2 separate regions of the Homo sapiens genome follow, and region 1 is linked to region 2. A link means that fine-mapping ties the variant in region 2 to the plasma level of a protein whose gene starts in the linked region. Region 2 holds a variant in brackets. A gene starts in the other region. All regions are shown on their forward strands.

Region 1 (6,962 bases), not on the chromosome of region 2:
TAAAATCCAGTTTGGGATTTATCCAGGCCACATCTTCTATTTTCCCCTCTAATGCCTACCTTCTTTAAACTGTCCCCATCCCACTTCCCCCAGAAAGGATATTCAGTTTTTTATGGCACCTCTCCCCAAAAGCACATAGAAATAACATTTGGTTCTGTTCCCATTAGGGTTGGTTGAGAAAGGACTTTGAAGCTATGGAATAAAAGTCGCGCTAGCGCACTGCAGCTTCAATTCCTGGTCTCAAGCGAGCCTCCCGCCTCAACCTCCGGAGTAACTGGGACTACCGGCCCAAGCCACTACACCTGGCCAAGGAAGTAACCCTTAATTAATAGTTCATGATGTTATTTTCCTTTACAACTCGGGGTAACAAATACAAAATTTAATATAAGATGTGAGCATTTTAACTCCATTTTAAGAGAGGTGTCCAGTGTGGTTGGACTAAAGCCCCTTTCTCGTAAGCATCCACAATTCCTCATTCCTGCACATCTCCTCCCTTGGGACCATACATAAAAACTCAACTCCTCATCTTGGGCACCTGAAAATCTACTTTAACAGAGAAAGCGCTCTAGATGGCAGGTGTCCTTAGAGCTGGGAGCGAAGCCCAAGCAAGAACTAAAGAGGGTGGCTGACTCCACAAAGCCACCCCCACAACCCCCAGTTCGCGTTCCTCCACCTGGCAGGTCCTCTGGGGAACCGCCAGTAACGGGCGCGCGGGTACCGTCGCCGAGGCCGCCCGGAGCAGGGCAGGGTCCGCCGCCGGTCTGACTCCCAAACCCGCTTTTCTCCGGAGGTCCCCGCTCGCCAGGACCGCTCCGAGCGCTACCTGCGAAGGTAACTGCCAGGAGCAGCAGCGCCAAGCGCAGCACCGACAGCGCCATCCTCCTCCCGCGCCGGCTGTCTTGCCCCTGCGGTCTGTTACCTGCGCCACTCGCAGGGAGCGCTCGTGCGACGGGGCGCGGGGAGGGCGGGGGAAGGGGCGGGGCGAGAATGGGAGGAAAAGCAGCGGTAGGTGGCGAGGGAAGAGGGGCGGCGGGAAGAGGAGCGGCGGGAAGAGGAGCCGTGAAGGGTCGGGGGAGAACCGGAAAGGGCTGGGAAGGAGAAAGGTAGAAGGACGGGGGAGGGGGCCATGGGGAAGGAGGGGCGAGGGAGATAGAGGAAGGGGCAGTTGTTCCCCAACACCTTCCCCTCCCCCCAAGGAGACGAAGGGGAAGACCTCTCCCTCCGACATACAAGAACCTGTGACAGTCCTAGGGGGACCCTTGTGGAGCTCTTGGGAGCTCTGTCAATCAACACCTATTTCTTAAGCATGTACTAAGTCCCAGATAGTGTTTCGTTGCTGAAGACACAGCCCTGACCTCGACAAAGGAGGTCCTTGCTCTCAGGAAGCGTTCTGCCTTTCCCTCTTTTAATATATTTTTTAACTATTTGAGTTGACACATAATGATTGTACATATTTATGGGGGTACATAGTGATATTTGGATACATACAATGTGTAGTGATCAAAATAGGATAATTAGCATATTCATCACCTCAAACATTTATCATTACTTTGTGTTGAGAACATTCAAAATCCTCTCATCTAGCTACTTGAAAATACATAATAAATTATTATTATTATTTAAATTTCAGACAGGGTCTCGCTCTTTTACCCAGGCTGGAGTGCAGTGGCACGATCTCAGCTCACTGCAACCTCCACCTCCCAGGTTCCAGTGATCCTCCCACCTCAGCCTCCCTCCCAAGTAGCTGGGACCACAGATATATGCCACCATGCCAAGCTAATTTTTGCATTTTTTGTAGAGAGGGGTTCTCACCATGTTGCCCAGGCTACTCTCAAACTCCTGGGCTCAAGCAATCCGCCCACCTTGGCCTCCCAAAGTGCTGGGATTACAGGCTTGAGCCACCGTGCTCGACCTTTATAATATATTATTGTTAATTGTCGGCACCCTACAATGCTATGAAACACTAGCACTTATCCTTTCTACCTAGCTGTAATTTTGTATACTTTAACCAACCTCTCCCTATCCCCCTATCCTTCCCAGCCTCTAGTAACTACTGTTCTACTCATTACTTCTGTGAGAAATAATTTTTGCCAAAGAGGCTGAGCAAGTTAGTGCATTAAGGCCAGGCGTGGTGGCTCACGCCTCTAATCCCAGCACTTTGGGAGGCTGAGCCTGGTGGATCACTTGAGCTCAAGAGTTTGAGAGGAGCCTGGGCAACAGGGCAAAACCCCGTCTCTAAAAAAAGTACAAAAATTAGCCAGGTGTGGCCATTGAGCTGAGATTGAGCTACTGCGCTCCAGCCTCAGTGGCAAAATGAGACCATGTCAAAAAAATTTGGCCAGGCACGGTGGTTCATGCCCGTAATCCCAGCACTTTGCGAGGCTGAGGCAAGTAGATCACTTGAGGCCAGGAGTTTGAGACCAGCCTGGCCAACATGGCAAGACCCCATCTCTACTAAAAATACAAAAATTAGCTGTGCATGGTGGTGCGCACCTGTAGTCCCAGCTACCTGGGAGGCTGAGGCATGAGAATTGCTTAAACCCAAGAGGCAGAGGTTGCAGTGAGCCGAGATGGTGCCACTGCACTCCAGCCTGGGCGACAGAGTAAGACTCTGTCAAAAAAAAAAAAAAGTGCATTAGCAGATCCACTTTTTTTTTTTTCTGCTTCTTATGCCTGTGTGTCAAATGATTCTGTGACATGTTGCCTTATCAGTAAGGGTCCAGTCTGGAAAACACAAGGTTTACTAGGTATTTCACCAGAGATAATTTAGTATAAGGAATTGGCTAATCCAGTAGGGATAACTGAAAAAAGCAGAAAGGGAAAACGAGGTAACACAGAGATAAAGCCTTTAGGAAGTAGGCATCATGCCTCGATCTAGGGGAACAAACGGATTAGGTTGGGATTCTCAGAACTAGAAATTTGGAGGAGAGGTCCTGGAAAGCTGGGACTCAGACCCATGGGAAGGGGGTGTTGCTTGGATATGCAGGTGGCTCTAAGAGTGTGTGGAAAAGCTGAAGACTGGAGCCAGGTGCAGTGGCTCACACCTGTAATCCCAGCACTTTGGGAGGTTGAGGTGGGTGGGTCACTTGAGGTCGGGAGTTCGAGACCAGCCTGGCCAACATGGTGAAACCTTGTCTCTACTAAAAAATATAAAACTTAGCTGGACATGGTGCCATACTCCTGTAATCCCAGGTTCATGAGAATCTCTTGAACCTAGGAGGTGGAGGTTGTGGTGAGCGAAGCACACCACTGCACTCCAGCCTGGGCAACAGAGTGAAACTCTGTCTCAAAAAAAAAAAAAAAAATGCTGGAGACTGGAGCCAGCTGATTCTATCAGAGTGATGAAGAGTCATTGCTGTGGCACTGCTGAAAGAAACAGCCAGCAGGCAGGAGCCAGTCCCTTCTCCCTCCTCCTGCCTTCCGGTGTCCCCCTGACAGACCCTATGGGCATAACCTTCTGGAAGCCAGCTGAAAAAGCAGAAATGAGGTCTGCTGAGACCTGGCACCACATAGCAGAGTGTAGAAGGGGGTTGTAGAGCTGATGGAGAATCATCTTATGACTGGCATGTTCCCATGCCCACCCTTGACCTTAGCAACCTCAAAGGCTGGAACAAGAAGACACTGTGCAGTTTTTAACTCCACTTGGCACCACACATGGCTGAGTTCTGGCTGGAATCCTGTCTGAGGCCAAGGGGTAAATTTGAAATGAGTGTTAGTACTTCTCTAAGTCACATCACATTCAGTTCTTTGAATAACAGTCATGAAATGGTCATGGGTCATTTTGCTGAAGATTCTTATCAAGGATTGATAAAATATAATTTATATATAAAGCTTTTCTCAACTGTGCTGGATGTCTGTTACCAAATGACATGTGCACTTGCTTACAAACACCTTTGATGCTCTGGGAACACAAATCTGACCCAGACTCAGGGGCAATGCTCAGAGGTGTGTGAGTAGGAATTTCAGCTTCAAAAGAAAAGCCATTTACCCCTCAAGATAGATTTTTTATAAATTTATGTGTGTGGATACAGCTGCCTTTAGGTTATTTTGTTTCAAAGAGTTGACACTGACTGGCAGGGTGGCTCATGCCTGTAATCCCAGCACTTTGGGAGGCAGAGGCGGGCAGATTGTTTGAGCCCAGGAGTTGGAGACCAACCTGGGCAACATGACAAAACCCTGTCTCTAAAAAAATACAAAAATTAGCCTGGTGTGGTGGCGCGCACCTGTAGTCCCAGCTACTTAGGAGGCTGAGGTGGGAGGATCACCTGAGCCTGGGAGGTGGAGGCTGCAGTGAGCCATGATCACACCACTGCATTTCAGCCTGGGTGACAGAGCGAGACTCCGTCTCAAAAAAAAAAAAAAAATGTTGATAATTATACCTTAGAAATATTTTCTATCATGGTGCTTTTCACATGTTGTCTCAGCATTTGTGAGCCAAGAACAAGGGTCAAAAAACATTTTCTGTAAAGGGCCAGATAGTAAATACCATTGACTTCTTGTCACAACTAAACTCTGCCATTGCAGTGCAAAAGGAGACATAGACTATAACTCAATGAATGGGCATAACTGTATTCTTTTTTTTTTTTTTTTTGAGAGAAGATCTTGCTGTGTCACCCAGGCTGGAGTACAGTGGCGCAATCTCAGCTCACTGCAGCCTCAACCTCCTGGGCTCAAGCGATCCTCCCACCTCAGCCCCACAAGTAGCTAGGAATACAAGCATCCGCCACCACACCCAGCTAATATTCTTGTATTTTTTGTAGAGGTAGGTGATATGGTTTGGCTGTGTCCCCACTTAAATCTCAACTTGAATTCTATCTCCCGGATTTCCCAAGTGTTGCGGGAGGGACCCAGGGGGATAATTGAATCATGGGGGCCAGTCTTTCCCATGCCATTCTCATGATAGTGAATAAGTCCAGGAGATCTGATGGGTTTATCAGGAGTTTCCATTTTTGCTTCCTCCTCATTTTTTCTCTTGCTCCTGCCATGTAAGAAGGGCCTTTCACCTCCCACCATGATTGTGAGGCCTCCCCAGCCATGTGGAACTGTAAGTCCAATTAAACCCTTTTTTCTTCCCAGTCTCATGTATGTCTTTATCAGCAGCATGAAAATGGACTAATACAGTAAATTGGTACCAGGAGAGTGGGGCGTTGCTGAAAAGATACCAAAAATGTGGAAGTGAATTTGGAACTGGGTAACAGGCAGAAGTTGGAACAGTTTGGAGGGCTCAGAAGAAGACAGGAAAATGTGGGAAAGTTTGGAACTTCCTAGAGACTTGCTGAATGGCTTTGCCCAAAATGCTGATAGTGATAAGGAGAATAAGGTCCAGGCTGAGGTGGTCTAAGATGGAGATGAGGAACTTGTTGGGAACTAGAGTAAAGGTGACTCTTGTTATGTTTTAGCAAAGAGACTGGTGGCATTTTGCCCCTGCCCTAGAGATTTGTGGAACTTTGAACCTGAGAAAGATGATTTAGGATATCTGGCTGAAGAAATTTCTAAGCAGCAAAGCATTCAAGGGGTGACTTGGGTACTGTTAAAGGTGTTCAGTTTTATAAGGGAAGCAGAGCATAAAAGTTTGGAAAATTTGTAGCCTGATTATGTGATAGAAAAGAAAAGCCCGGACAGGCACAGTGGCTCACACTTGTAATCCCAGCACTTCGGGAGGCTGAGGTGGGCTGATAACCTGAGGTCAGGAGTTTGAGATCAGCCTGGCCAACATGGTGAAACCCTGTCTCTACTAAAAGTACAAAAATTAGCCAAACGTGGCGGTGGGCACCTGTAATCCCATCTACTCCGGAGGCTGAGGCAGGAGAATCGCTTGAAGCCGGGAGGCAGAGGTTGTGGTGAGCAGAGATGATGGCGCCATTGCACTCCAGCCTGGGCGGCAAGAGTGAAAGAAACTCTGTCTCAAAAAAAAAAAAAAGAAAGAAAGAAAAGCTGGGCGTGGTGGCTCATGCCTGTAATCCCAGCACTTTAGGAGGCCAAGGCGGGCGGATCACCTGAGGTCAGGAGTTCGAGACCAGCCTCAACATGGAGAAACCCCGTCTCTACTAAAAATACAAAATTATCCAGGCATGATGGTGCATGCCTGTAATCCCAGCTACTTGGGAGGCTGAGGCAGGAGAATTGCTTGAACTTGGGAGGCGGAGGTTGCAGTGAGCCGAGATCACACCATTGTACTCCAGCCTGGGCAACAAGAGGGAAACTCCGTCTCAAAAAAAAAAAGAAAAAAAAAAGGGCCAGGTGCAGTGGCTCACGCCTGTAATCCCAACACTTTGGGAGGCCAAGTTGGGTGGATCACATGAGGTCAGGAGTTTGAGACCAGCCGGACCAAGATGGTGAAACCCTGTCTACTAAAAATACAAAATTAGCCAGGTGTGGTGGTGCATACCTGTAATCCCAGCTTACTCAGGAGGCTGAGGCAGTAGAATCGCTTGAACCCGGGAAGCAGGGGTCGCAGTAAACCGAGATCACTCCATTGCACTCTAGCCTGGGCAAGAAGAGCAAGACTCTGTCTCAAAAAAAAAAAAAAAAAAAAAAAAGAAAGAAAGAAAGAAAGAAAAAGAGAAACCCATTTTCTGGGGGGAAATTCAAGCCGGCTGCTGAAATTTGTATGAGTAGCAAGGACCCTAATGTTAATCCCCAAGACCATGGGGAAAATGTCTCCAGGACATGTCAGAGACTTTCACTGCAGCTCCTCTCATTACAGGACTGGAGGCCCAGGAGGAAAAAGTGGTTTTGTGGGTGGGGCCCAGGGTCCCTGTGCTGTGTGCATCCTAGGGACTTGGTGCCCTGTGTCCTAGCTGCTCCAGCCATGGGTGAAAAGGGCCAACATACAGCTCAGGCTGTGGCTTTAGAGGGTGGAAGCCACAAGTCTTGGTAGCTTCCATATGGTGTTGAGCCTGCAGGTGCACAGAAGTCAGGAATTGAGGCTTGGGAACCTCCGCCTAGATTTCAGAAGATGA
Region 2 (16,284 bases):
CTTGTTACTGGGCAGGGCGGGGCCAAATCTTGTCTGTTCCCTGGCCACAGACTTCTGGAGGCATCAGGAGGTGTACTGCCGTACCATATACTTGTGAGGTTTGGGGTCCTTTCCTGAGGCCCCAGTTTCTCTAAGACAGCAGATGGCCTCCTGAGGCTCATTGGGTGCAAGGAAGCACAGAAGGCGAAACCCCAGCTGGAAGCCCTGGCCCTCAGGGACCTCTCTGAGCACAGGGTGAGTTGGCAGGCAGGGGCTGTAGCCCCTCAGCACCCTGCGTGGTTAGTGGCAGGTTTTCTAAGTTCCAGGAATGAGGATGCACACACACTTCTCCCGCTTTTGCTGCTTCACATCTGGTAAGGACCTGGGTCAGGATACACCTTTCTTCTGAGGAGAGCATCCTCATGGAGCTGTTGCCTGCTATTGGTCAGGCAGGTAGGATTTCCCTGCTGCTAGTCCCTCCTCTGCCTCATGCTCCTCCCAAGAAAAACCTGAGTGGCCTCTGCTAGTCCCTTATCCCTTTCCCTCAGCACGGTATAGCGGTCATCAGACATTGTGTCTGGCCTTGTGCTGAGCACTAAGGTGTGGACATCTGGTGTGTGGAGCCTACCCTCAGATGCCCATGGGGCACACTGGCTGTGTTACTGAGAAGGCTAACATTAACCCTGGTTAGCAATAGGGTTCTGGAACCCAAATTCAAGTCCTGCCTTGCTTGCTATGTGACCTGGGATAAATAAATCACCCTCTCTGTGGGACAATAGGTGGAGGAAATACTCCAAGAAGGGGTGATATGATTTTAGCTGATTCTGAAAATGTGAGCAAGACCTGTCTAGGCAAGAGTATGGGAAATTCAGGTAATGGAATTCTCATATATCGGAGTGGCTGGAACTCAAGGGATGACAGATATGACAAATGAGACTAGAAATGGCCACAAGGGCTAGTTCATAGTGGCCTTCTATGTATACTGAGGAGCTGACTTTATTCGGAGGACAGTGAGAAAATAGTAAGCATTCTAAGGCCAGGTTCGTGCTTTTGGAAAGAGCTCACTCTAGCTGCTATGATAAACAAGAAGACCAGTGAGGAAGTTTTGAAACTCTCCTCTGCAAGAGAATGGTGGCCAGCCAGGCGTGGTGGTTGTCGAATCTGTGGCACCTGTGGGAAGTGGGCTCAGCCCAGGGACTGCCTTTGGATCCCCCAGCATTGGCACCATACCTACCCTGGGCCCTAAGGTGGCCATGCTTCTCTGGATTTGCTTCCCTAGCAGGGGCTCTAGTGCTTGCCCACTCCCTGCCCACAGCATGGCCTGGGAGCAGCTGAGACTGGGGGCCAGCTCATCCCGCGTCGATTCCTGGAAGTGTTATCAGTGCCTGTTATGGAGGCTGGACCCATGAGTGGCAGCCTTCCCTGGCAGCTGGGCTGACCTGTCTGCTTTTCCATTGCTCGCTGGTTTTGTTCACTGTAGGGCGTGAGGGGTGAGTAGCTGCTGGCCTCCAAGTCCATAGCTACTCATGTTGTACGCTGTTCACAGGGACCTCTAAGGATGTACATCATCACACATTCACACACATGCACCAGGATTTGCTTTTTTTGGCAGCTTTTCCCTTCCTGGCTTCCTTTTTGAGTGGTGGAAGTAAAATAAAAAGCAACTAGGGGCTGGGCACAGTGGCTCACGCCTGTAATCCCAGTACTTTGAGAGGCTGAGGCGGGCAGATTACTTGAGGTCAGGAGTTTGAGACCAGCCTGGCCAACATGGTGAAACCCCGTCTCTACTAAAAATACAAAAATTAGCTGGGAGTGGTGGTGCACCCCTGTAGTCCCAGCTACTCGGGAGGCTAAGGCAGGAGAATCACTTCAACCTGGGAGGCGGAGGTTGCAGTGAGCTGAGATCACACCACAGCACTCCAGCCTGGGTGACAGAGCCAGACTGTGTCTCAAAACAAACAAACAAACAACAACAACAACAAAAAACTGGGCTCTGGTGGTTGGGAGGAGGAGGGAAGGAAGCAAGTACCAGGGTAAGCAGGATGGATGGATGGCTCTCCCCCAGAGGGGCGGCAGCACACAGAGTTCTGGAGTCAGACTCAGTAGAGGGCCAGTTTTGACTCCACTGCCAACCACCTGGCTGACTCCAGGCAGGTTACATCACTGATGAAAGCCTCAGTTTCCTTGTCTATAAATTGGGGGTACAAGCGATGAAAAGAGGCTCAACATCACTAATCACTAGGGAAATGCAAATGAAAATCATAAGGAGGTACCACTTTGTACCCTTAAAAATAGTTACTACAAAAAGAAAAAAAAAACACCCAGAAATCCACTTTGGGAGGCCGAGGCAGGAGGATTGCTAGGGGGCAGGAGTTCAAGACAGCACTGGGCAACATAGTAAGACCCCATCTCTACAAAAAATAAATAAAAAATTAGCCAGGCATGAGGGCATGTGACTGTAGTTCCAGCTTCTCAGGAGGCTGGGGCAGGAGGATCACTTGAGCCCAAGAGTTTGAGGTTGCAGTGAGCTATGACCATATCTCTGCACTCCAGCCTGGGTGACAGGGCAAGACCCCACCTCTAAAAAAGTGTTGTTGTTGTTTTTAAACACAGAAAATAACAAGTGTTAGTGAGGATGTAGAGAAATTGAAACCCTTGTTCATTCCTAGTGGGAGTGTAAAATGGTGCAGCCACTATGGAAAATAATGTGGTGGTCCCTAAAAAAATTAAAAATAGAATCACCATATGATCCAGCAATACTAATTCTGGATATATGTCTAAAATAATTGAAACAGGGTTTCAAAGAGATATTTGTACACCATGTCTATGGTAGCATTATTCACAATAGTCAAAAGGTGAAAGCAACCCAAGTGTCCTTCCACAGACAAATGGATAAACATAATGTGGTATATGCGTACAATGGACGATTATTCAGCTTTAAAAAGGAAGGACATGCTACAACGTGGATAAACCTTGAGGAGACTACGCTTAGTGAAATAAGCCAGTCACAAGACAAATTATTTTCTGATTTCACTACAGGAGTAGTCACACTCACAGAAGCAGAAAGTAAATGGTGGTTGCCAGGGACTGGAAGAAGGAAGGAGTAGGGAGTCGTTGTTTCATGGGTATAGAGTTTCAGTTTTGTAAGATGAAAGTAGTGTTGGAGATTGATTGCACAACAGTGTGAACGCTTCTGAACTGTACACTTAAAAATGGCTAAGATGGTAAACTGTATATTATGTGTACTTTATCTCAGTTTTCAAAATGGGGATAATAAGAGAAGCCACCTTATCTGAGTTGTTGGGAGGACTCAGTGAGATAATGCCCCATGCCCCATCCGGTGGTGGCCAGCACAGAGTGTGGCACCAGCAAAGAGTGTGGCACCAGCAAATGGGCTTCCTAGGTGGTGGTGAGGAGTGGTAAAGGCAGAAGCTCAGCACCTTCTTTGCCTTCTCCACTGGCTGGGGACAGTGGGCATGGTGGGAGCTGTTCTAAAGTCCAGGTTGTGGCCTGTGTAATAGGTGATGGGACTTGCTGGAGGCTGAGCCCCTCTCCCCACAGTGGCAGTTCCAAGCCTCAGAGAATAGAACACAAGTCCAAACCCATACTGACTTGGCCAGTGCCAGTGTACAGGGCCAAGCCCAGGGCCCCTGAGAAGGTTCTCTGCATCCCAGTTGGCACAACACAGGTAGTGGGACTGTCCTCAGATTGTGTCTTTGCCTTATACTGCCGTGCCAGGATCTCCCAATGGGCATATCTTTGGGGACAGACAAGTCTGCCTGAACTGCCCCCCAACACCTCTTCACAGGAGGACAGGGTTAGCCAGGAACCAAGGATGGCATGCTGTGCTGTAGAAATGCCTTTCATAGTATGCCAGGAGGTAGCAATAAGGTGTCTGAGTTGGGGTTTGCGTGAGTGCATTCGTCTGTGTGTGTACATGTGTATAAGGTAGTTTCCTTCTTCAGGGGTTGATTGTGAGGTCCAAGTTTTTCAACCTGTGCAGTTACTAAGAGTCAAATTATTTTTCGTTTTATTTTATTTTATTTTATTTTATTTTATTTTATTTTTTTGAGATGGAGTTTCTTTCTTCGTTCTTGTTGCCCAGGGTGGAGGAGTGCAATGGTGCCATCTCGGCTCACTGCAACCTCTGCCTCCTTGGTTCAAGCGATTCTCCTGCCTCAGCCTCCCGAGTAGCTGGGATTACAGGGGCCTGCTACCATGCCCGGCTAGTTTTTTGTTTGTTTGTTTGTTTGTTTTTTGTATTTTTAGTAGAGACAGGGTTTCACCATGTTGGCCAGGCTGGTCTCGAACTCCTGACCTAAGGTGATCCACCTGCCTCGGCCTCCCAAAGTGTTGGGATTACAGGCGTGAGCCACCGCGCCTGGCGATTATTTTTTAACTTTATTTTGAAATAACTTTTGATTTAGAGAGAAGTTTGAAAATAGTACAGAGATTTCACATATACCCTTCATCTAGCTTTCTCTGATGTTAACAATTTAAATACGCGTTATGCATTTATCCAAACCAGGAAATTAACATTGGTTACAATAGTAATAACTGAACTACAGACTTTGTTTGGATTTCACCAGTTTTTCTACTACTGCCCTTTTTCTATCGTAGGATCCCATCCAAAATCCCATGTTGTATTTAGTTGTCATGTCTCAGTCTCCAATCTGTGATTGTTCCTTAGTCTTTCCTTATCTTTCATGATCTTGACATTTTTATGAGTATTTTGATGAATGCTCCTCAGTTTGGGTTGGCATGATTTTTCTCACAATTAGATTGCGTTATGCACTTTTTGGTAATGATACCTTAGAAGTGATGCATTCTCTGGGCATCATACCAGTGGGTACATGATGCTGATGTGTCTTATTACTGGTGATGTTAACCTTGATCATTTGTCAAGTTGGTGTCTGTGGAATTTCTCTGCTGTAAAGGTACTATTTTTTCCTCTGTCACTAATAAATATCTTAAGGGAGGTTCTTCGAGATTATACAAAATCCTGTGTCTCCTCAAATTTTTATTCACTGATTTTAGCATTCATCACTAGGTCTTGACTGAAACAATTATTACTGCAGTTTGCCTAGTGATGATTTTGCATTTTCTGATTCCTTCAACATTTATTAATTGGAATTCTTCTGAGAAGAAGAGCTTCCCCTCCACATCTATTTATTAATGTATGCAATTGTTAACTTATATCAGTACAGGTTCATACATACTTATTTTATTTCATCAGTTATAAACTAATGCTATCCATCTTTATTTTGTTGCTCCAGTTATTCTAGCTCAAACCAAGTTATTTTTCACTTTAAGGATAGAGAATGTAGATATCCAGGGTAAGGGCCTTTATCTGTCTCTGCAGTCAGGGCTAGAGGAGTCTGTGTTTACCCCTGCGGGAGGAGTGCCAGTCACAGCTCGTTGCTAAGTTTTCCATCAGGCAGCAGTTGAGCAGGAACGCAAGCAGGGACTGGTGGGACCTGGGTTGGGACTGAAGCTTCTGTTGGGGAAGGAAGTGCCCCAAGCAACCCAGAGTGTCTGATGCTGGGGTCCTCATCCCTGAGACCTACTGCAGGGGTCAGATCTCAGTCTCCATGGGCATGGCCCTTCATATATAGCCCTCAGGGCCAAGACCTCAGAGAGAAGAGGCCCTGCGTGTGAGGAAACCCGGCAGCCTCCTGCCCTGAGGCTAAAGGAGCAGGAAGGGCAACAAATGCTCTGCTCTGGAGAGGGCCTAAGTTCATCTGCAGGGCCACAGGGCAAGCAGCAGAGGCAATCCTGGCTCGTGGCCAGGGGCTAAGCATGGGCTGGCCTTTGCCTCAAGCATGTCCTCTTCTCCCATGGAGCATCATTAGGGTCTTGACCTTCCCATCAGTCCATGGGCTGGGAAAACTGAGGCAGTCACCTCTAAGCTGGATACCACTTCTGCCAGGTCTTGTGCTCCAGAGGCCCTGGGGGAACCTTGTGTGTTAAGGACCAGCCTTCTTTGCAGGCCACCAGTGATCTAAGACAGGGCTGCTGCCACACCGTAGATCCTCCTGTCCTCTTCTGCAGCTGGGCTGCCTCCTCTAGGAACCCTAGTGGAGCTGCTGGTAGCCCACTGGTAGTGGAGTTGATGGAGCCTCCAGCAAAGGGCCTGGACCTCTGGTGGCACTAGCCTTGTGCTTTCCTGGGAACTGGGGTCAGGGCCTGAACAGCAGTAGGACTTACTGATTCCCCACCCATAACCCAGAGGCGAGCCAGGTTATGTGGCGAAGGATAAGGCCTCTTCCCCTGCTAACGGGGAACTTCTGGGAGGCACTGAGAGCAGCAAGCAAGGGAATAATGAAACAGACTAACCCTCACATGCGGCTGCCACTATGTGGGACTTCACATAGCGGCTCTCAAGGATGCACCTCCCCTGGGGTCTGGGTAGGCCCCGACAAAAGGGGAAAACCTTCCGTGATAGGCAGGTTTGTGGAGTTTCTATCAGGCCTGCAGGCTGCCCTGGGACATTGCTCACGGGTGTGGAGACTGTCAAGATAGCCTGAATATTAACCAAGTTGATCATCCAAGTCCATACTCAGACCTGCCCTCTGGCAGATTCCAAAGGGGATAAGGTGTGGGGGCCTCTGGCTCCAGCCAGCCCGGCGAGACTTCTATTTCCAGTCAATGCTTCAGAAAGTAGATCTTGCCAGAGAGCACATAGAGGAGACTCAGGGGCTTCCCCTTGCTCTGGCCTGAATGTGCTTCCCTGTTTGTTTATCAGCTGCCTCACCCCAAACTGTTTGCCTCTCTGCTGTGTTCCTCTGACAACAGCCACCAGGATCTCAGAATATGCTTTTGTTCAGAGGCTGCTTCACCTGCACCTCCTGCCAAGTTTCTGGATAAACAGACTTTGTCCATCCCTCTTGGTGGGCAGCAGAACTCTCAGACAGAGTCCAAGGTGGCATTTTGACAAAAACAAGGCTTTGACAGGACTGGTCAGGGGGAGCTGCAGGTACCTTGGGCCTCTAGAAGGACTGTAATTCCTCCCTTATGGCAGGCTGCATTCAATTTAGGTGTAAGACTAATACAGGTGTGCCTTGTTTTCTAAAGCTGTGTTGTGGTTTTATGCATGTCTCTGGAGTCCAAAAGAAAGGCAAGGATCCCCATTTGGAATGAAGAAGGTGTGGAGAGAATGGACGTTCTGGGGAAAGGCTGGAATGACCCACATGCTCTAGCAAGAAGCACAGACAGTCCAAGGCTGGTGGCTCCTGCTCAGCATTTGCAAGACTGGAGGGCAGGTTCAGGCGGCAACTTCCAGAGCTTCCCCTCAGTGCTTGGTGACTGGCACAGACACGATGCCATTTGCTCATGTTCCCCTAATACAGACTGGTAGAGCTGTGGTGGATCCATTGTCAGGATGCAAGGGGCACAGCCAGGTCCCTGAGTGACCCTTCTCCTTCCCACAGCCCCTCCACTCCCATCCCTATCTTCCCACTCACACTCACTGGTTCTTCTGCTTTGGTTTAGCCTCCAATGATCACAGAACTCATCAGTGAGGCTTTTCCATCTGTGGTAGCTTTTCTAATATAAAGAAAGAAAGATACTGAGAACATTTTAAGGCTTAGCAGCCTTCTGGCTTAGTTGTTTGTAAATGAAAATATGAGTAGAAGAATTAAACAGCCAAAAAGATAACCCACAAAATGGGAGAAAATATTGACAAATCATATATCTGATAAAGGATTTGTATCTAGAATATAAAAATAACTCTGATAACTCAGCAATAAAAAGACAAC[C/T]TGATTTAAAAATGGATAAAATCATTTGCCCATTTTGGAGAATAGATGTTTTGCCAAAGAAATACAAATCAATTAGCACATGAAAAGATTCTGAGACTTCGAAGTTAGCAGTGTGAGGAGCGCCAGCGCCATAGACCAGCTCCTCAGTGAAACAGCCATAACTGGTGAAAATACACACACACACACACACATTTAGAGTCTCTGGAAGTTGTCCTAAGGGCATATATTTATTCAAGAAAGTCGACTATACCTTGGCAAGAACAGTGAAGTCTATGATATTTGAGTCATAACTCCTTCAGCCCTCCCCTTCCCCTTCCTCCCAGCACAAGAAAAATGGAAGTTCCACTCTAGGTGGGTATGGCCAAGAAAATACTGTTCTCTCTCCCATCAGCTTCCAAGGAAGGGCTACAGCAGCCCACCAAGAGGGACAACCAATGCCCATCCCCCACCCATCCCTGTATTCTCTTAGCTCCAAACCACAGAAGGTAAAATCCTCGTGAGTGCAACCAGGGGATCATAGGTTCCCATCCTCCACCCACCGCCTATTCATATAGTAGAGACTCTACTCCAGGTGCCACAAGTTGAGAATATTAGAGCCTTGATTGCCCTTATCCCAGCTCATTCATACGGCAGAGATTCCACACCAAGCTCCCACTTCCACTCAGTGTCTGACTCATAAAGTAGGGGTGTCATTCTGAGATAAATGGGCCGCTTTCCCTGCCTACCTCTCTACAACAGGAGCTCAGATATTTTGCCCAGCGGGGAGAGATAATCCAAAAGAACAGAGTTCTAAAGCTGTCCCCACAGGAACGAACTTTATTTGAAATAGAGTGTGTGAAAGGACAGCCTAAGATTGCTCTCAAGAACAATGGAGAATTTAGTGGTAAGCAACTAAAAGGATTCTGGTAACTCCATTAGAGCAACAAATGAACCCATAATGCAGCTAGTTTACCAGGAAAAAACAGAAAACAAACAAACAAACAAAACAAGAAAGAGACAGCTAAGAGCAGCCCTTCTGGAGTCAAAACAAACCTTATAGATTTGCCTCAAAAACTACCACTGCAAAGAGGCTTGACGTCAACTGGATTAGACTGTGGGACAATATATGCCCCCAGGGCATTATTGAAATGAATGAGGCAACTGGCTAGCAATTAGTGAGGCTAACAGCTGGGTGTGATACCAGCAGACACAGACAGCTTAATAGAAAGATCAGACTGGCGTGGTGGCTCATGCCTGTAATCCTAGCACTTTGGGAGGCCAAGGCGGGTGGATCACCTGAGGCCGGGAGTTTGAGACCAGCCTGGCTAATGTGGGGAAACCCCATCTCTACTAAAAATACAAAAATTAGCTGGGCATGGTGGCAGGTCCCTGTAATCCCAGCTACTCAGGAGGCCGAGGCAGGAGAATTGCTGGAACCCAGGAGGTGGAGGTTGCAGTGAGCCGAGATCATGCCACTGTACTCTAGCTTGGGCAACAGAGTGAGACTTCATCTCGGAAAAGAAGAAGAAGAAAGATCAGGGAAATGGGGGTGGAAGAATGTGACAGTACCTAATTTCTACAATATATTATCTAAAATGTCCAGTTTTTAACCAGAAATTACGAGATATGCAGAGAAACAGAAAAATATGACCTATACATGGGGGGAAAACGTGGGCAACAGTAACTGCCTGAGAGGGTCCACATGTCAGATTTTAACAGACTTTAAGGCATAAGGCAGCCATTATAAATATGTTCAAAGAATGAAAGGAAGTCATGCTTTTAAAAGTATGATGACAATATTGCATCAAATAGAGAATAGCAATAAAGAGAGAAAAATTACATTTATATTTTTAAAAGCTGAGCCAGACATGATGGCATGTGCCTATAGTCCCAGTTACTCAGGAGGCTGAGGTAGGAGGATTGCTTAAGCCCAGGAGTTCAACCCCAGCCTGGGCAACAGAAAGAGACCTTGTCTCTTAAACAAACAAAACAACTGAATAGAACTTCTGGAGTAAAAGTATACAATAATTGAAATTTAAAAGTAACTCAAGGGCCTTAACAGAAGATTTGAACAGGCAAAAGAAAGAATCAGCAAACTTGAAGATAGAGGATTGGAAATTATGCAATCCAAAGAACAGAGAGGAAAAAGGGAATAAAGAAAATGTATAGAGTCTCAGAGAAATGGGGAACACCATTAAACATAGCAATATATGCATAATAGAATTACTAGGAGAGGAGAGAGAGAGAAAAGGGCAGAAAAAATGCTCAAAGAAATAATGACTGAAAACTTCCCAAATTTGGTGGAAAACATTAATCTACACCTTTCAGAAGCTCAACAAACTCCAAATAGAATGATCACAAAGAGATCCACACCCTGATATATCATGGTAAAACTGCTTAAATAAAAAAAGAGACAAAAACGAAGGGAAAATTTTGAAAGCAGCAAATATATGACTAGGTACATACAAGAGAACTCCAATAAGATCAACGTTTGACTTCTCATTAGAAACCATAAAGGACAGAAGGCAGTGGAGTGGCATATTCTAAGTGCTGAAGGAAAAAAGAAACTGTCAACCAAGAATCATGCATCCAACAAAACTGTCTTTCAAAACTGAGATAAAGAAATTCAAAAATACACAAAACTTGAGAGAATTGTTTCTAGCAGTGATGTCTTACAAGAAATATTAAAGGAGGCACTTCAGAAATAAATTTAACCAAAAATTTGCAAAATGTATACTTTAAAAACTATAAAATGTCATTGAAAGAAATTCCAGAAGGCCTTAACAAGTGGAAAAGCTTCCCATGTTCTGTTCATGGAGCAGAAGACTTATTGTTAGTATGGCAGTGCTCTCCAAATTGATCAATAGATTCAATGCAAAAGATGTTCAACATTAGTTATTAGAGAAATGCAATCAAAACCACAATGAGATACCTCTTTACACCCACTACAATGACTAAAATTAAAGACACACAATAACAAGTACTGGTAGGAATGTGGAGAAATTGAAACCCTCATTCATTGCTGTTGGGATTGTAAAATGGTGTAGCCACTTTGGAAAGCAGATTAGGAGTTCTGCAAAAGGTTGAGTATATACTTACCGTATGACCCAACAATTTCACTACTATGTATATACCCCAAAGAAATGAAAACATGTACACACAAAATGTTGTACATGAATGTTCACAGCAGCATTATTCATAGTAGCCAAAAAGTGGAAACAACCCAACTACTTATCAACTGATGAACAGATCATTGAAAACGTGGTAGACCCAAACCGTGAAATATATATATATATATATATATATATATATATATATATATATATATATATATATATATAGTTGTTGTTGTTGTTGTTGTTGAGATGGAGTCTCACTTTGTTGCCCAGGCTGGAGTGCAGTGGTGTGATCTCAGCTCACTGCAACCTCCACCTCCAGGCTCAAGCAACTCTCCTGCCTCAGTCTCCCAAGTAGCTGGGATTACAGGCACGTGCCACCGTGCCCAGCTAATTTTTGCATTTTTAGTAGAGACAGGGTTTCACCATGTTACCCAGGCTGGTCTTGAACTCCTGACCTCAGGTGACCCACCCGCCTCGGCCTCCCAAAGTGCTGGGATTACAGGTGTGACCCACCGCACCCAGCCCAAACCATGGCATATTATTAAACCATAAAAAGTAATGAAGTGCTGATACACTGCACAATGACATGGATGGACTTAGAAAAGGAGCTAAGTATAAGAAGCCAGTCATAAAACACTATATATTGTATGATTCCATTTATATGAAATGTCCAGAATAGGCAAATTCATAGAGACAGAAAGTAGATTAGTGGTTTCCAGGGGCTAGAGGAAGTAGCGAATGAGGAGTGACTGCTAACAGGTATGGGTTTTCTTTCAAGGGTGATGAAAATTCTAAAATCAGATCATTGCTGATGGTTGCTGAAGTCTGTGAATATACTAAAAATGATTGATTTGTATACTTTAAAAGAGTAAATGTTATGGTGTATAAATCATATCTCAATAAAGTTGTTACAAAAAAGTAATTAACTAGCCATGTTTGTTTTTGTTTTTCTTTGTTTTGTTTTTTCATATTGTCAAGGAATTCCCAGCTTTAAGTCACAATCAAGTGACAAAGATAGAACTGGGGTGGATGTATAGTCCATTATTAACTACTACTTCTTACTTTTCTCTAGAATAAAGGATAACTATGAGAGGATACTATAGAAATCAATCTTTTATTCTTAAAAGGACCATTGCTAATTTTTCACTCACAGTCATCTCTGGGATTGAATTCCATTTATCAAATCCCTTTTATAAGAGCTTTTCTAGCTTTTAGTAATGGACTGGAATAATTTTTATTTCTTAGAATTTCTTTCTCTTAGTCAGATTTAAGTGTAACCTGCTTTGCTTATTCGTCCATGTGTTCCAAGTCATGATTTTGCTCAGGACAAATAAAATGCTCTACTAGTATGAGCCTGGTAGAAAGGGAACTACCATTTAATGAGGCCTGTAATGTGTCAGACGCTCCACTGATATTTCCCATCCAATGCACACAACAAACCTAGGAGCAGGTATTATTGTCATCTTTTTGAAGGTGAAGAAGCAGGCTAATAGAGGTGAATGGATTGCCCAACATCACACAGTCCAAAGTTGCAGACCCCGAGAAAGCCTGTGTTCTTTGCTGAACACCAGGCTACCTTCCAGCGTTCTCAGTTCCGTGCAGGTCAGACGGGGTTCACTTATCTTTATGGTCCTTTATAGCTCTGGTAAAAACTAAAACTGCCAGACTTTGGCTACTTGGAGAGTTAGTTCAAGGCTGAGGGTGATTTTCCAAGTGCAATGCGTGATACTCCTCAGCCCAAGAACCACATTTTCCAGGCTGATTTTCTATGACTCCTAATTAATTGTTCAATATTCATTCAACAATTTGTTAAGCACCCACTGTGTGCCTAGCACTGTGCAAACACTAGTCATCTAAAATATGATTATACGGATTATTCAGGTTTTAGAACTCTGTCCTTCTGCTGGAGGATGGTGAGGAGGGGGTGCCTCTTTCCTCTCTAGCCAAAGAGCAAGGGTGAAGTGGCCCAGAACAGCGCCCACCCCACCCAGGGCTGCTGGCCTCATGCATGCACATGTGCACATCTGTCCTGTAAAGTATGCTTGACCTTGAGCTTTGTGAGGGCAGGGACCATGTCTTTCTTGTGCCCTACACAGAGCCTGGCCTGGAGCAGGTAGGTGCTGAATGTCAGTTGAATCAATGATTAAGCAATTTTTTTTTTTTTTTTTTTTTTTTTTTTTTTTTTTTTACCAATTCACTAGGAGAACTTGGGCTGGTTGCTTTATTGCTCTGTGCCTTCATTTCCTCATTTGTAAAACAAGGATAAGAGTACCCATCTCACATGCCAACCCTGAGATCCCCTGAGATAATACACGGCACTCAGTGAGCACTCCACACACTGTTACTGTCTTTCCCATTACTCCCTTTACTATAGGGAGCCATGGGAAGCGGCACATCCTTCTATGCCAAGAGTGACCTCCTATCCCCTATTACCTTGTCACCTGGATTTTTGTTTCTTAAATTAGAGCTGAAGGCCATGCGGCCCAGCTAAATGGAGCTCACTCTGCTCTGTTGTGAGAACCTTGGTCTGGGACCCTGCTGATGGGACAGACATAGTAACCCCGGGAGGCCCCATCAGAGGGGCAGGGAGAGGGGAGGTAAGCTATGTTTCAGAAATGTTAGGATTTGACTTGAAAGCACACCCCCAAAGCAATGCCAGCCAGCTCCTTACCAGGACATCTGCCATTAGCCTCTGAGCTGGTCATGTGTATGTATGTGTGTGTGCATGTATGTACAAACATGTGCAGGGACCCACAGGGACAGGTCTGTCCCATCAAGGAAAACACTGTCTCCCACTGGGCCCGCCATGTCACTGTTAACCACAGGGAGGTTTTGTGGCCCTGGCTAGCGGAGACCCAAGACATATCCCTCAAACCTGAAGGGCCCAGGGGCAGGCAGGGCCGGTTTCCTAAGAAAAGCCTTTTCTAAAGGACCCCTCTTAGGACTGGCAGCTGATTTACTGGACTCTAGCCCTTCGCTCCAGGTAGAACTTCATCTGCCAATCCTGTGTCCTAATACCAGGCCCCTCACAGCTTTCCAAAAAGACACTTGCGGCACCATAACTCCCCAAAGGAGAGCCCAGCCCTAGAATCAACCATGGGCAGCCATGCAGTCTAGCTGCCTTCCCCTGCTGGTTGTAAGCAGGGTCTCCAAAGGCAGATGGCACCCCTCATGGGCTTGGGGCAAACGGCCACTGCGTGTGCATGGCTCTTCCTGTGCTGCATGATGCTGACAGGGCTTCTTGGGCCCCTCTTCAGGGAGGGAATGGGACCGAAAGCCATCGATGCAGAGCCTACAGGAAGGAGAATGATGGGAGATGGCCCTCACCTCACCCCCCTTCCCAGTGTCCCCATTCAGAACTCCTGCATCTGCTTCATTTCCTGGAGGCCAGGTTTGATCCCCTGCCAGGGCCAGCTTCATGGGCATGCAACTGTGCAGTCACACAGAGCGCCACACTTGGTTTCAATGCTTTGCCATTGCTGTATTGAAATTCTTAATAATTTTTGACCAAGGAGTTCTGCATTTTCAGTTTGCCCTGGACCTTGCAAATTAAGTAGCCAGTTCCCAGTCCTACCCTTTGCTCATGCAATGCCTGGCTCCACATCTAACAGCCTTCCATTCCTTTCTATCTCTAAATCCTATCTATCCTGCCCTAAGGCAAAGTCCAGACAGAAAAATATTTGACAGACTACAAAGGAGAGCACATTATATTTGAAAGAGCTTTTCTGCTCAACTGCAGATGGAATGATGATGGTTGGCATGTTAATGCCTCTACCAATCTTGAGTTCTTCTTGGCTCAGTCTGAGGCTAAAGGCTGTGATGGAGGCCTTCTACTCCTAGTCCTGGGTAATTGTCTCCTGGTATCACATTCCTTGAAGAAGTGTAGGGCATCATATTTAATAAGCTCATTTTGTCCTGCCTTAGGGAGTATAGGTCCAAAGCAGGACACTGGTACAAGATTGGGTTCTGAGGCCCAAGTAGGTATCTATCATGCTCATTTACTTGCTATGACTTCAGACAAATCCCATTCTCACAGTCTCAGTTTAATCTTCTGCAAAATGGGTCACACCACATCATGAGGCTTTGGGCCTCAATTGCTCATCTCTCTAAGTCAGAAGCAGAACCCAAGCTTTTATCTGAAGCTTTGGACAATTATTTTTGGAGGGAGATGGCCATGAATGCAGGCACACGTCCTGTTTACCACTTCCGGTCTATGGACTGGCAGAACACATTAATCTGGCCATACAGTTTTAGAGGATTCATTTCCCTTTCTCCTGAAGCCCATGCAAGAGCCCCAGGCGAGGCAATCCTGCTCTGGGTACAGTCTGAGATTTATCCTTGGATTGTGCCTGAGCAGCAGAGCGCTAACTTCCTGGCCCGAGTTGTTTTTCTTCTGCAGAGCTGTGTTGGGCGTTGCCTGTGGCCAGCATTTGAGCACTGTGACAGGCGGCCTCATGAATCTTGCTATTGTCTCTAGGACAGGACTATTCTCGAGGACATTATCCTCAGCATCACAGAGTGGCTCCTTTGTGGAAGAAGTACATAGGAGACACTTCTTTCGGATCTCAGTATTCAGAACAACTGTGCTTCTGCGAATAAGCAGACTACTTCGGATACTGTAACCCTTCTGAGAGCTGAGCTGCTGGGATACGCAGAGCCAGTTTTGGAGCCCCGTCTGGCAAGCAGGCAGGCCCGTGGACAGGATAGTCTAGGGTCAGTCTTACCCCAGGCTTGGTTTTTGCAACTTCCCTCCTCTTTATTTTCCATTTTCCCCAATTCCCTTAGCTTTTTGTTTTACATTTTTCTCTTGTGTGTGTCTTTATAAACACCTCTGTCTGCTGCAGAATAAGGTGTGATATAAATATGTGAGTTTGTGCTTAAATCCACCACACTTTCAAGGGAGTTGTGAGGATTCAGAAGGAATTGTTTGGCGAATGCAGTAAAAGCAGCCCCATCCAAGATGGAGCTAGGGCTGGGTGGGAGGCAGGGGTCTTTCCTCCAGACTGGATCATCTCGCCACAGACAGCAGCCCCCAAAACCCAAGCCCAAAGTGCTCATTGGCATCTGTTTGTTTATTTATTTGTTTTTAATAAATGAAAGGTCACTAAACACACTTTGAAATTTTTGTCACCTCCCTTGAGATGTTGCTTAATTGACTTAAGTCAAACTGAAACTCTGGCTGAAACTCATTTTGTAGATGCACTGGCAGGGACTTGTTAGGGCAGCAGCATCCCACAGACCCTAGGGAATGGGAGGGACCACACTTCTGGAAAGACTGGATGGGAAGGAGGGTGTAGGGATGTAGGAGGGGAGCTAGGGAGCCCTGGAGAGGAGTAAGTAGGCCCCAGAACGATGGGGCCCCGAATCAGGCCACAAGCTTGGCCTAGGCGTGAGTGGACCAGGGACCACATGATTTCTCAGAGGGGCCTGCTCAGAAAATAAAGTCACAG

Alleles and levels. Positions count from the first base shown, and alleles are read on the strand shown. Strength reflects both the effect of a copy and how common the allele is.
With allele C in place of T in region 2, the plasma level of the protein whose gene starts at base 917 in region 1 is lower (moderate association).

The links. PIP is the posterior inclusion probability: the model's chance that the variant is causal. The UK Biobank Pharma Proteomics Project read protein levels with antibody pairs (Olink). The fine-mapping took linkage between variants from a reference panel, not from the people measured, so its PIPs are less certain.
Region 1: it holds the start of SPINK2, and the variant in region 2 is fine-mapped to the plasma level of the SPINK2 protein (UK Biobank, PIP above 0.99).

The regions. Positions count from the first base shown.
Region 1 is chr4:56,820,785-56,827,746 of GRCh38, forward strand. It overlaps SPINK2 (serine peptidase inhibitor Kazal type 2), which reads right to left and starts at 917. Exons shown (of 4, transcript NM_001271718.2): 1 at 674-917. The coding sequence starts at 878. RefSeq lists a silencer at 759-1,018.
Region 2 is chr5:132,295,388-132,311,671 of GRCh38, forward strand. The region is part of intron 1 of SLC22A4 (solute carrier family 22 member 4); the gene reads left to right. MIR3936HG (MIR3936 host gene) reads right to left here. Exons shown (of 8, transcript NR_110997.1): 8 at 15,889-16,284. Among named protein-coding and RNA genes, the nearest start is that of SLC22A4, 9.1 kb to the left of the region's middle. The variant C/T (reference allele first, on the strand shown) is at 7,737.